3 linked regions of the Homo sapiens genome follow. The protein of the gene in region 1 purifies or fractionates together with the protein of each later gene. This does not show direct contact. Each region holds a gene or a part of one and is shown in the gene's direction. Other genes may lie near its edges.

Region 1 (3,937 bases):
CTGTTTGGCCTGCTGTCTACTTCCCAATCCATCCCCACTAACTATAGTTTATGCTATCTATATTTCCGATGTGTTTGGAAAGGGAGGACAAGGATTTTGAAGGGGGAGCCTGATTCTTCTCCTTTACCCATAAGCAACTAGACGAGGCATTCCATTTTTTAAATTAACTTCTTTCCCTCACCCTCCCAGGGGTTGAGGTGTGAGAGTGGTGATCTGCATCATCAGCATGCCCATTCCAGAATGTTGGTGAACCCCAGCTATGCCCCACACAGCTCTCCAGAGAGTGGCACCAGCTGCACAATTCTTAAGTGTTTCCAGAGTTCTATTAACTTTGAGATGCACTCAAAAAAAAACACCCTTTTCTTGCCGACACTTCCCCCCTACTCAGCCCTACAGTAAGCAGCTCACGGGGAAAGGTAGCACAGGTCTTGGTGCCTTCTAATAATCCTATAGTTCACATGCAGATATCTAAGAATTCTACAAATAGGATGGTGGGAAAACATCAGGCCTCCTCCCTCGTGCTAGACAAGATAGGGGCAGAGGTCCCCAGCCAGGATTTATGTAATACAAAACTCTTAACACATAATAGTAGTACTTGCTAAACATTAGCTTCAGTACTAAACAATCTCATTTTCCCCCTAGAAATGTTACTAATAGGGAAACTAAAGGATGCCCTAAGTCTGAGAGCCCTTCCTGGGGCTGGGCCACCCCCCTAAATCATAGGCTTTGCAGAATAGGCACTGTTGGTGAGGATCTCTAATTCTCCTGCCTTTCTCCCCAGTAACCACCCTGACTTTTTCTACATTATCCTCTGAGGATAGAATGGTTTTTGATCAATTTAGTTGCTGATAGGAAAAACCATCTAATAACCAGATTAATAAACACTGTCCCACTTTTAGGGTGTGATACTGCTTACTAAGCACAAAAAATGCACTGGATCCTCAAAATGTTAACAATAAATTCAGGGGCTAATCCCCCACAGTTGTAATGTGGATACTTGAATGACTGTGCTTTTGTTTCTGTATGACTTACAACTGTTCTTTTCTATAACAGATGAGCTCCTAGTAAGTGAAAAATAACAATGTTCTTTGGGAGCTTCCTACTTAAAAAAAGAGAGAGAGATTCATTCTAACCAACTTACCACACTTTATATATTTGTATGACTGTTTTCTGTATTCAGTCTGTCTTACTAGACTGAATGTTCCATGGGGGCAGGGTCTATGTCTGCATTGCTCATGAGTATATGCTCATTACCGTAAGCCCAGTGCCAGTATACAGCCTGGAACATAGTAGGCACTCAGTAAAATACTGTTGGTGGATGGATAGATGGATGGATGAATTGATAGCTGCACACATTTATGAATAAACAAATAAGGATGAAGGGGATAGTTGATGAAACTGAAGAGATGAGAATGGCTCTTGAGGCTATGAGAAGCTAATGAGAAAAATTAAGCAGGGATGTGATAGATTTGCATTTCAGAGAAATGTGACGAGCAGATGCTACTGAGAGGTCAAATAGGAGAGAAATAACAAGACTCTATTGGTTTAGCAACAAAGAAATCTAATAACCTTGATAAGAGCTAGTACAGTGGAGCAGTGGGGGCCAAAGTTAGTGAACTTTAGTTTTCAGTGGAGTAGCAGAATGACAGAAAGTGGAGATACCTAATAGACCATTTTTTACAGAAGTTTGCCTGTGAAGGTCAGGAGGAGCTAGGGTGATACTAGAAAAGGACGCAGGATAAGAAGTTGTTATTAGATAAAACTAACTCTGACAAAGCCTGGTGCCTGTATTGAAAATAAGTCACTGAGGCTGATCCAACTCCTTTCCCAGACAATAATTAAAATGATCTAGTGAGGAAGCTCTTATTGGAGGTGGGGTGTGGGGGAAGTCCTGCTTAAGGTGTTCCTGCCAGGTTCAACCCAATTAACTGCTCTTAAAAACAAAAAGAAAATGAGGGGACTGGAGAAGTTCTAGGGTTTTTGCTTTATTTTGGAGTGAGCCATTTACAATGTATGACGTGGACTCTGGTAACAGAACTAAAACCCACCAAGCTTGGTCTAAGACATGGGATTATGTAGAATAATGCAGATTTATGTAGTCTGCTAAATTAACTAAGGAAAAACCTAGACCTTGGGAGAGATTTTTAATATCTTTGAGTCAAAACTGAAACAAAGTTGGAAGACTTCAAGTTAAGGGACGGGAAGCATGGTAGGTGCAAAGGCTCTGCCCTTGGTCTTCTTGATACATAGTGGACACGGACTCAGTTATTAGAGACAAGTCCTAACCATTCACTGCTGCTACACGCAGACACCAAGGACAGACCAGAGATGAAAAGCTCTGAACTGGGGGACCAGTAGCTAGCTAAATTTAGGTAGCTAAGAATATAGAGGTCAACATCCTCTAGACACCAGCACAGAACCCACGTCCATAGAACAAAAGGAAGTTTACTTTACAGAATGATGCACTGTATTATTCCTTGCTCATGAGAGGACACAATCATCACATTATTATGAACTGAGAGAAGAAAGTCTAAGTCATTTGAGATCTGTGTATATTTTCTAACCTAATTTCTAGCCTGACAGAAGTGCCTTAGAGGAAAATTATGGTTATAAATTGCCTCAATGGGGGCCTGATAAAATGTCTTTTTAACTTTTGAATATATAGTCCTGGCGTTTATAGCACTCTTCATTCTAAATAAGTTTTGTTCCTTTTATCAAATCAGAATGGGAAAAAGTATATTAAGAGACTTCTTCCTCACCACTACCACTTTTGCAATTTCTGAGCATCGCCAGTAGTGATGGGGTGAAAAGAAGGGGGCAGGTCTTGACCATTATTTAAAAGCAGGGGCTGAGGGAGGGAGGTGTCTAAGAGAAAGCACATCTGTCACTCAAATGAATGGGTGGATGGTACCAATAGAAAAAACTGAAAAGAGTAGGCATAGGATAAGGGAAATGTGAGTTTATGTTTGGACAAGTTGACCAGAAGTTATAAAGATATGGTAGACAATTAGGAGTCTGAAGCTCTTGGGAAAGCAGAATGGAAACCACAGTTAATTGTTTGAGTGTTAAGTGCCAAATATTAAGTACTTTATCAGAATTTTCTCAATTAATCTTCACAGTCTTATGAGCTAGGTAATATTTTCATCCCCAATGCCGCCTCCCCCATCATAAAAGCGGAAGCTTAACCCATGTGACGTGCGAAGTTGTTTGCCCAAGGTCACGCCCCAGTAGGAAGAACAGCCTGGATGCAAGTTAAGGCAGACTGATTGCAGAACCCTGTTCAGCTACACCACCATAAGTATGCAGGTGGTAATTAAAACCTTGAGAGTAAATGATTGTCCAGGGAGCAGATATCAAGCGAGATGAGTACAGAACTGTAACAGGCGGGCCGAGAAAGTGGAATTAATGAAGGGGAACCTAAGGCTTTGTGGTTCTTTTATTATTATTAATTTTGAGACAAGGTCTCACTGTCGCCCAGGCTGGAGTGCAGTAGTGTGATCACAACTCACCGTACCCTCGACCTCCCAGGTTCAGGTGTTCCTCCCACCTCACCCTCCCAGGTAGCTGGGACTACAGGTGTTATACCACTACGCCCAGCTAATTTTTTGTACTTTTTGTAGAGACGGGGTTTCGCCATGTTGCCCAGGCTGGTCTTGAACTCCTGGGCTCAAGCGATCCACCCACCTCGGCCTCCCAAAGTACTAGGATTATAGGCAGGAGCCTCCATGCCCAGCTGGTTTTGTGGTTCATAAGCAATGCATGGCCAGGTTGAAAGCAGAAGTGGCCTTGAAAAGCCAACGCTACGAAACCCCTGGAGACAGAGAGTACACCTGGGCTTTACGAGTGAATGCAAACCCTGGCTAGGTTCCCCTCTAGACCCCTGTGGGATAAAGCATGACTGTTACTTAAAAACGGAAAGAAGGAATAGCACTTAACA
Region 2 (3,937 bases), about 65 Mb from region 1:
AATAATACAAAAATTAGCTGGGCGTGGTGGCACATGCCTGTAATCCCAGCTACTGGGGAGGCTGAGGCAGGAGAATCGCTTGAACCCAGGAGGTGGAGGTTGCAGTGAGCCAAGATCGCGCCATTGCACCCCAGCCTGGGTGACAAGAATGAAACTCTATCTCAAAAAAATAAAAATAAAAAAGATAACATGAGGGTTTCTGAATGCTGCCAAAGGTCCAGATAGGCAGTTCCTGACAAGCTCAGAGTCTGGAATCTGTTCACGCACAGCTAGGCTGGAAAGCAGTTGTATCAAGCAGAAGATGAGGAAGTCAAGAGCTGGCCGAGGATGATTTTCTGTCCTAGAGAAAAACATCTATGTGGCACCTTCATTCTTCCCTAGGGAGCTCTTGTTCTTTGCAGATCTCCTCCATCTTTCATCCCTGTTCCCCAAGCCTCAGCCTTTTCGGTGTTCAGTTTCACCAGCAAAAGAAAGGGAGAAGCAAGATTCAGGTTTCTTCTTCCTTTTCCCCTTAAGCCAGGGTGTTGTTCAAGCTCTCACCCCAGGTGTAATTTCAGAGCCTTCTCATGCGTGCTGGGTAATCTGCGAGAGGCCAACAGGTCATTGGGCATTAAGCCCAGGAAACCTGCCTTAGACCCTGGTGGCAGCAGGCCACCAGGTTCCTCTTGTCAAGTCCAGACTTGCTTGCTTGATCCCTTGGAAATTTGATTATAAAGAGCATTGCCCTGGTAGCTTGTGGTTTGACACTCAGATTGAAGTTTTGATTTTGTTTTAGCAGAAAAGAGTGGTTTCCAAAACCAACTTAAACTAGACTATAAAATTCTTCCTGGGTCAGAAGTATTAGGAAAGACAGTGTTGGTGTACTGGCTTTACTCACAACTTGTCTTTTTTTTTTTTTTTGAGATGGAGCCTCACTCTGTATCCCAGGCTGGAGTGCAGTGGCATGATCTCAGCTCACTGCAACCTCTGCCTCCTGGGTTCAAGCGATTCTCCTGCCTCAGCCACCCGAGTAGCTGGGATTAAGGTGTGCACCACCATGTCCAGCTAATTTTTGTATTTTTAGTAGAGAGGGGGTTTCGCCTTGTTGGCCAGGCTGGTCTCGAACTCCTGACCTCAAGTCTTAAGTGATCTGCCTGCCTCGGCCTCCCAAAGTGCTGGGGTTACAGACGTTAGCCACTGTACCCAGCCTCAACTTGTCTTATTATTATTATTATTTTTTGAGACAGGGTCTCGCTCTGTTACCCAGACTGGAGTGCAGTGGCACTATATCAGCTCACTGCAACCTCCGCCTCCCGGGTTCAGGTGATTCTCATGTCTTGGCCTCCCAAGTAGCTGAGATTACAGGCATGTGCCACCACGCCCAGCTAATTTTTTTTTTTTTTTTTTTTTGAGATGGAGTCTTGCTCTGTCACCCAAGCCGGAGTGCAGTGGCTCAATCTCGGCTCACTGCAACCTCCACCTCCCGAGTTCAAGCGATTCCTCCTGTCTCAGCCTTCTGAGTATCTGGGACCACAGGCATGTGCCACCATGCCCGGCTAATTTTTGTATTTTTAGGAGAGACGGGGTTTCACCATGTTGGTCAGGCTGGTCTCGAACTCCTGACCTCGTGATCTGCCCTCCTCGGCCTCCCAAAGTGCTGGGATTACAGGTGTAAGCCACCAAACCCGGCCTAATTTTTGTATTTTCAGTAAAGATGGGGTTTCGCCATGTTGGCCAGGCTGGTAATACCCTGACCTCAGGTGATCCGTCGCATCGGCCTTCCAGAGTGCTAGGATTACAGGTGTGAGCCACCACTCCTGGCCACAGCTTGTCTTATTACTTGCTCTATCCTACATCCTTTTAGAACCTGGAAACTAAGATTATATTTATAAAGATATTGTTGGCAATTAAATCAATCCCAAGAGTGATATTCATGGTACTGATGAGATCAAGGGAAAAGGTTGTATCTACCTCATTGGCTCTTGGTGTGAACATTCTCTCTCCTTTTCTTTCACTTGAATAGCTCCTGTTCAGTTATTCTTTAGGACTTGACTCAGGAAGAGATTCCTCCAAGAAGCCATCCTAGCAAGGTTACCCTTTTCTTGCCACCCTTGTGCAGCTCTTGTGCAGAATTTGATCAAAGCTCTTATCACAGTGTACTGATATCACCTGTTCCCATTACAAGACCATAAACTGAAGGAAGGCAGTTTAAATATTTAAATACATTTTTCTCTTGGGTTTAGCACAAGAGTTGGAACATTCAATTTACTGACAAAACGAGTATTCTTGGGCCATTTGGTGACCTCTTATTTGCATAGCTTTCCAGAGGGGGAGGCTCCAGTTACCTGCTTTGTTTGGTTGGAAATTTACTTGTATCTGTAATTAGTTACTTTTCTGCTGCACTGAAGTCATGTGTATAGTTTCCTTTCCTGGAAAGAGTTCTTCCCCTTAACTCTTGGGAATTCTTAAAAACCAGTGTCAATATTTCTTTGTCCTTGCCCTTTTCTGTAGTACATCATACTTGTGTCTACCATGAGTATCTTTTTATAGGTCTGTGTTTATTTGCCTTTTTTCCATTAGCTCCTCCTTAGATCCTTGGTTTTGCCACTTCTTTTCTCTTTTCTTTTCTTTTTTTTTTTTTTTTTTTTTTTTTTTGAGACGGAGTCTCCCTCTGTCACCCAGGCTGGAGTGCAGTGGCATGATCTCAGCTCACTGCAACCTCCGCCTCCCGGGTTCAAGCAATTCTCCTGCCTCAGCCTCCCAAGTAAGTAGCTGGGATTATAGGCACCCGCCACCATGCCCGGCTAATTTTTCTATTTTTAGTAGAGACGGGGTTTCGCTATGTTGACCAGGGCTGGTCTCGATCTCTTGACCTTGTGATCCGCCCACCTCAACCTCCCAAAGTGCTGGGATTACAGGCGTGAGCCACTGTGCCCAGCCAGTTTTGCCACTTCTTAGCTGTTGATTTGGAGCAAATAACTTCACTTTTTTTTTTTTTTGAGATGGAGTCTGGCTGTGTCGCCCAGGCTGGAGTGCAGTGGCGCAATCTTGGCTCACTGCAACCTCCGCCTCCCGGGTTCAAACGATTCTCCCGCCTCAGCCTCCATAGCTGGGACTACAGGTGCATGCCACCACGCCTAGCTAATTTTTGTATTTTTTGGTAGAAATGGGGTTTCACTCTGTTGGCCAGGCTGGTCTCTAACTTTTGACCTCAAGTGATTTGCCTGCCTTGGCCTTCCTATGTGCTTGTATTACAGGTGTGAGGCACAGCGCCCGGTCTAACTTCACTTCTTTGAGCCTATTTTCTCAACTAAAAAATTAAAGATCTGGATATGGTGGCTCATACCTGTAATCCCAGCAACTCAGGGTGCTGAAGTGGCTGGATAGCTTGAGGTCAGAAGTTCAAGACCAGCCTGGGCAACCTAGCCAGAACCATCTCTAAAAAAGTTTAAAAACATCCAGGTGTGCTGGCACAGGCCTGTAGTCCCAGCTACTTGGAAGGGTGAGGCAGGAATATCACTTGAGCTTAGGAGTTCAAGGCTGCAGTGAGCCATGATCACACCACTGTTCTCCAACCTAGGAGACAGAACCAGACCCTGAGTCTAAAAAAGAGTTCCTTTTTTAGGACTCCCTTTACCTCCCTTGCAGGAGCCCACTCGGGCCTACCAGCATGGCTGACCAGACCTCTGTGAAAGGTACTTGGAGAATCTCTGCAGTTCTTTTTTTTTTTTTTTTTTTTGAGACAAAGTCTCGCTCTGTTGCCCAGGCTGGAGTGCAGTGGTGCAATCTAAGCTCACTGCAACCTCCGCCTCCTGGGTTCAAGTGATTCTCCTGCCTCAGCCTCCCAGGTAGCTGGGACTACAGGCACCCGCCACCACGCCTGGCTAATTTTTTGTATTTTTAGTAGAGATGGTCTTTCACTGAGTTAGCCAGGATGGTCTCGATCTCCTGACCTCGT
Region 3 (3,937 bases), on another chromosome or scaffold:
TGTATCAGCACTGTCAGCCCTCAAAAATCCAGTATCTCCAACAAACTGGGTGTCACAAGGCTTTCTAGTGAAGTGTTCCACACCTGTTTGTTGTCATCTCTCATTAATGTGTGGCATCTCCTGGGATGCATCTTTCAACCAACCAGCATCCCAGATTTATAGGTCAAAGCAGAGGATCAGAGAACTCATCCCAGGGAGGAATGGCACTTGCAGAAATGGGCAGCCATGACTTTGCTTGACTCTTCTGTCTTCTTGCTAGAGTTGTTTTTTAGCTTCCAGACATGAAATGCATTGGGGCTCAGATGACCGGAATAGGCTAGATCTGTCAGTGATGGTCCAAGGGACTTTTCATTGGTAAATCTGCTGAGACTGCTGAACAAGGCTAGTGATGCCTTGCTTGTGAGCTTCCTAATCTGGCTGCTGTATGACATTGCAATTCTGGGCTTCAGGGCCCCAAACCAGCATATCCAAAGAACCTGAAGCCAATTGTTCTGTCATTCTTTAAAGACCCAACGCATGGGATGGCAGATGCCAGGTGCAGAATATAACCTCCTGTCCATCCCTACAGAACATCATATACTGGAGACAAGAGGGCCCAGCCTACCCAGAACAAGACCCTTTCTCCAGATCACTAACTTTCTTGAGGATCTGAAGTTAAGCCACATGCCTAGACTCTTCCTGGGCCAGCAACCATTTTACTTAGAATGTCAAGGGGAAATCCCCTTGGAAATACTCCAGTACCCATTGCCTAAGGACTATGTGCTTATTCTCTTTTTGACCAATCATTATAATTCCAGAGATTTAGGAAGCCCATTGCTGTATCAAGGACTATAAAATGGTGGTGGCCAAGGTGTCAAGGATCCCAGACCTGCCTAGGACTCTCTGTGCCATTGTCCCTGGAGAGAGAACCCAGTTACTCTCACTTCCAGTGCAGTGGCTCCTGATCTTTGAGTTGTTTGGCTTGTTTTTACATGTGATTATTTCACTTTTAAACATCCAGGAAAGAGGCATCTGCAGAAATAAGGATTTCTTTAATAATTTCTTATGTTGGGCACTTGGAATGTCCTGCCACAGGTACATGCACCATGGAACTGGCAAGTGGGCAGACAGAAAGGACAGGCTGGCAGTGCAGGTTTCCCAGGATCTCATGAGGTAGGGCTGCTGCTGCTGCTGCTGCAATATCTGCTGGCCGGAGGCTTTGCTTCCATTTTAGACATCCCAAACAAAGTCATCTTGGGGGACCTAGCCCCAAACCAATCTTGGTACTTAGATCAGGCTGCCTGACATAACTGAGTCTCATTTTCTGTTTCGGATACTCCCAGGTTCTCATGCTGCTTCCCAGTGCCTCCCCCATTAGATGGTACCTAAAGTAAGAAAGCCATTGACACAGAGAGGAGAGAGGAAGTGAGACGGGTCACAGACAAGTGATGGCCTAGTCTCCCAGCCCCCATCCTGCCATAGCACTGTTGCCCTTCACCCTGCCTTGGGCTCTGACATGCTCCCTTCCCCCCCACCCCCGGCAGACTCTGGATGGGCACATGGTGGTGCGTAGCCATGCCCGTGTGTCGTCGCTGACCCTGAAGAGCATCCAGTACACTGATGCCGGAGAGTACATCTGCACCGCCAGCAACACCATCGGCCAGGACTCCCAGTCCATGTACCTTGAAGTGCAATGTAAGGAATAAATGGGGAAGGACCTGGGGGAGGGAGGGGCAAGGCAGGGTCAGGATGAGAGAGGAAAACATCAGCAAGGACCTATGTGCACCCTGTGTGTTCTGCTTACGTTCCCTGCAGCTGACCCTGGGCTATTTCAGAGCTCTGTTCCCAAGCCACCCCCTACACACCATCTCCAGGCTTCTTACAAGCCTGCTGTGCCCTTGAGTCTTCTTCCCATGCTGTGCACAGGAATTCTAGAATGGCCCTGACCTCTACTATACCAGGCGCTGGCTCTGCTTTGGAGCACACCTGCCTTCCCAGTGCCAGGAGACAGGATATGGGGGCTTCATAATCATGGCAGTCATCCTGACAGTCATTGTTATTTATTGCAGATGCCCCAAAGCTACAGGGCCCTGTGGCTGTGTACACTTGGGAGGGGAACCAGGTGAACATCACCTGCGAGGTATTTGCCTATCCCAGTGCCACGATCTCATGGTTTCGGGATGGCCAGCTGCTGCCAAGCTCCAATTACAGCAATATCAAGATCTACAACACCCCCTCTGCCAGCTATCTGGAGGTGAGTCAGGATGGGGGTGGGACAGAGCAGAGAAAGCACAGTTTGACTCTAGGTGGGCTCCAAAATGCAGCTCAAGTCCTCTCTCCTGCTTCTCTGGCACATCCTGAGCAGGGAAGGCATGGGCTAGAGAAGACACTGAGCCTCTTTTCAGCTCCCCTTCGCCCACTCTACCAGTCCCCTCCCTGAATGTGCCTCTCCCATGAGCCCCTCTGCTATTCTTTTCTCTTGTTTAAGGCTGGGCTGGAGCTAATGATTTATACTTTACTAGTTCTGTTTTTTACTAACTTAATTCAGTAAATAAAGATCTGAGTCTGTGACCATCCCATAGGACACTTGTAACCCAATAGCTTCTTCCTTCTAAAGGTGACCCCAGACTCTGAGAATGATTTTGGGAACTACAACTGTACTGCAGTGAACCGCATTGGGCAGGAGTCCTTGGAATTCATCCTTGTTCAAGCAGGTGAGTGTCCCTTACTCACCTGAGAGCAGCTGCCACAACCCCCCACCTAACCCTGCCAGCCCAATTTGTGTACTTGAGTGATTCCAGGATATTGGGAAGAAGAAAGGGCCAGGGTCAGCAAAGCCAGAGAGTTGGGAAGCTGGGAGCCATTGGATCAGCGCATGGGGCATGTTGGGGGAGAAGCATCTGGTGAGATGGGCCAGGAGGACAGGATACAGTGACAGGATTCCCAAGAGTGAGCAGAAATGACAGAGATGTGCCTTGTGACTGAGAGTTAATGGTCTTGGGCCAAACTGGGCTCACCTGAGTCTCCATATGTGTCTTCCCCACAGACACCCCCTCTTCACCATCCATCGACCAGGTGGAGCCATACTCCAGCACAGCCCAGGTGCAGTTTGATGAACCAGAGGCCACAGGTGGGGTGCCCATCCTCAAATACAAAGCTGAGTGGAGAGCAGTTGGTGAAGAAGTATGGCATTCCAAGTGGTATGATGCCAAGGAAGGTGAGTTGGGCGAGTTGGTGTTTCCATTGGGATCATGAGTGCCTCAGTACTCAGATGTCCCCACCTGCCATCCTGGGCATGTTCCTACAGAATCAGGAACTGCACCTCCAGAATTAGGTCAAAGTCATATCTGCCTGTAGAGTTGTTGCCCCTATTGCCACCCCAACCCATGCTCTGTGCTTCAGAGCCTGGTTCTCATGACCCTTCCAGTATGGATGAAGGCATCTGTACCACATTCCAGGCAGGAACCTTGTGTAGGTTCTGAGCGCAGCCAGATGAGTCCAGCCCATAGGTTCTGAGCATGGCCAGATGAGTCTAATCCATCCTACTCTGCACGTTTGAGTTACCTGTGCTGCAGGTTCTCTGCCGACACCCGGCCAGTCCTGCTTGGATATCTGTACTCAGGGACTGGCTGTCTTGTAATTGTGATAGTAACCAAATAAGCACAGCCAGCAGGACAAGTCTGCCCTTAAATCAGTCCTGTGCTAGCTTTCCAAGCTAAAGATTAAAAGACTGACCCTTGGATTACTGCAGTGTGAAGATTCTGAGCCCAGATCATCTGAGGATAATGTGTGCTTATGTTGGACTCCCCTTTTTGGGTTTAATTGGAATAACTCAGTGAAGTATGTTTTGTTTCTGTACAAATTTTTAATCCTGGTCTCGTATGTGGTAATTCGAGTGGAATTGGAAGTAGGCTGGGATATCAGTATCACAGCCATTCAGAGACATAGTCCAGTGCAG

Evidence for each region.
Region 2: the proteins of SLC16A4 (region 1) and AKR1A1 purify together in Homo sapiens (affinity purification with mass spectrometry; one large-scale study listed by BioGRID and IntAct). This does not show direct contact.
Region 3: the proteins of SLC16A4 (region 1) and NCAM1 purify together in Homo sapiens (affinity purification with mass spectrometry; one large-scale study listed by BioGRID and IntAct). This does not show direct contact.

The regions. Positions count from the first base shown.
Region 1 is NC_000001.11:110,384,527-110,388,463, reverse strand, and holds part of SLC16A4 (monocarboxylate transporter 5), read left to right. Parts: intron 1-3,937. UniProt on the Homo sapiens protein: Proton-linked monocarboxylate transporter.
Region 2 is NC_000001.11:45,557,028-45,560,964, forward strand, and holds part of AKR1A1 (aldo-keto reductase family 1 member A1), read left to right. Parts: intron 1-3,937. UniProt on the Homo sapiens protein: Catalyzes the NADPH-dependent reduction of a wide variety of carbonyl-containing compounds to their corresponding alcohols.
Region 3 is NC_000011.10:113,230,122-113,234,058, forward strand, and holds part of NCAM1 (neural cell adhesion molecule 1 isoform 2 precursor), read left to right. Parts: intron 1-1,074; coding exon of another isoform or gene 1,075-1,152; intron 1,153-1,523; coding exon 1,524-1,674; intron 1,675-2,048; coding exon 2,049-2,233; intron 2,234-2,596; coding exon 2,597-2,693; intron 2,694-3,025; coding exon 3,026-3,196; intron 3,197-3,937.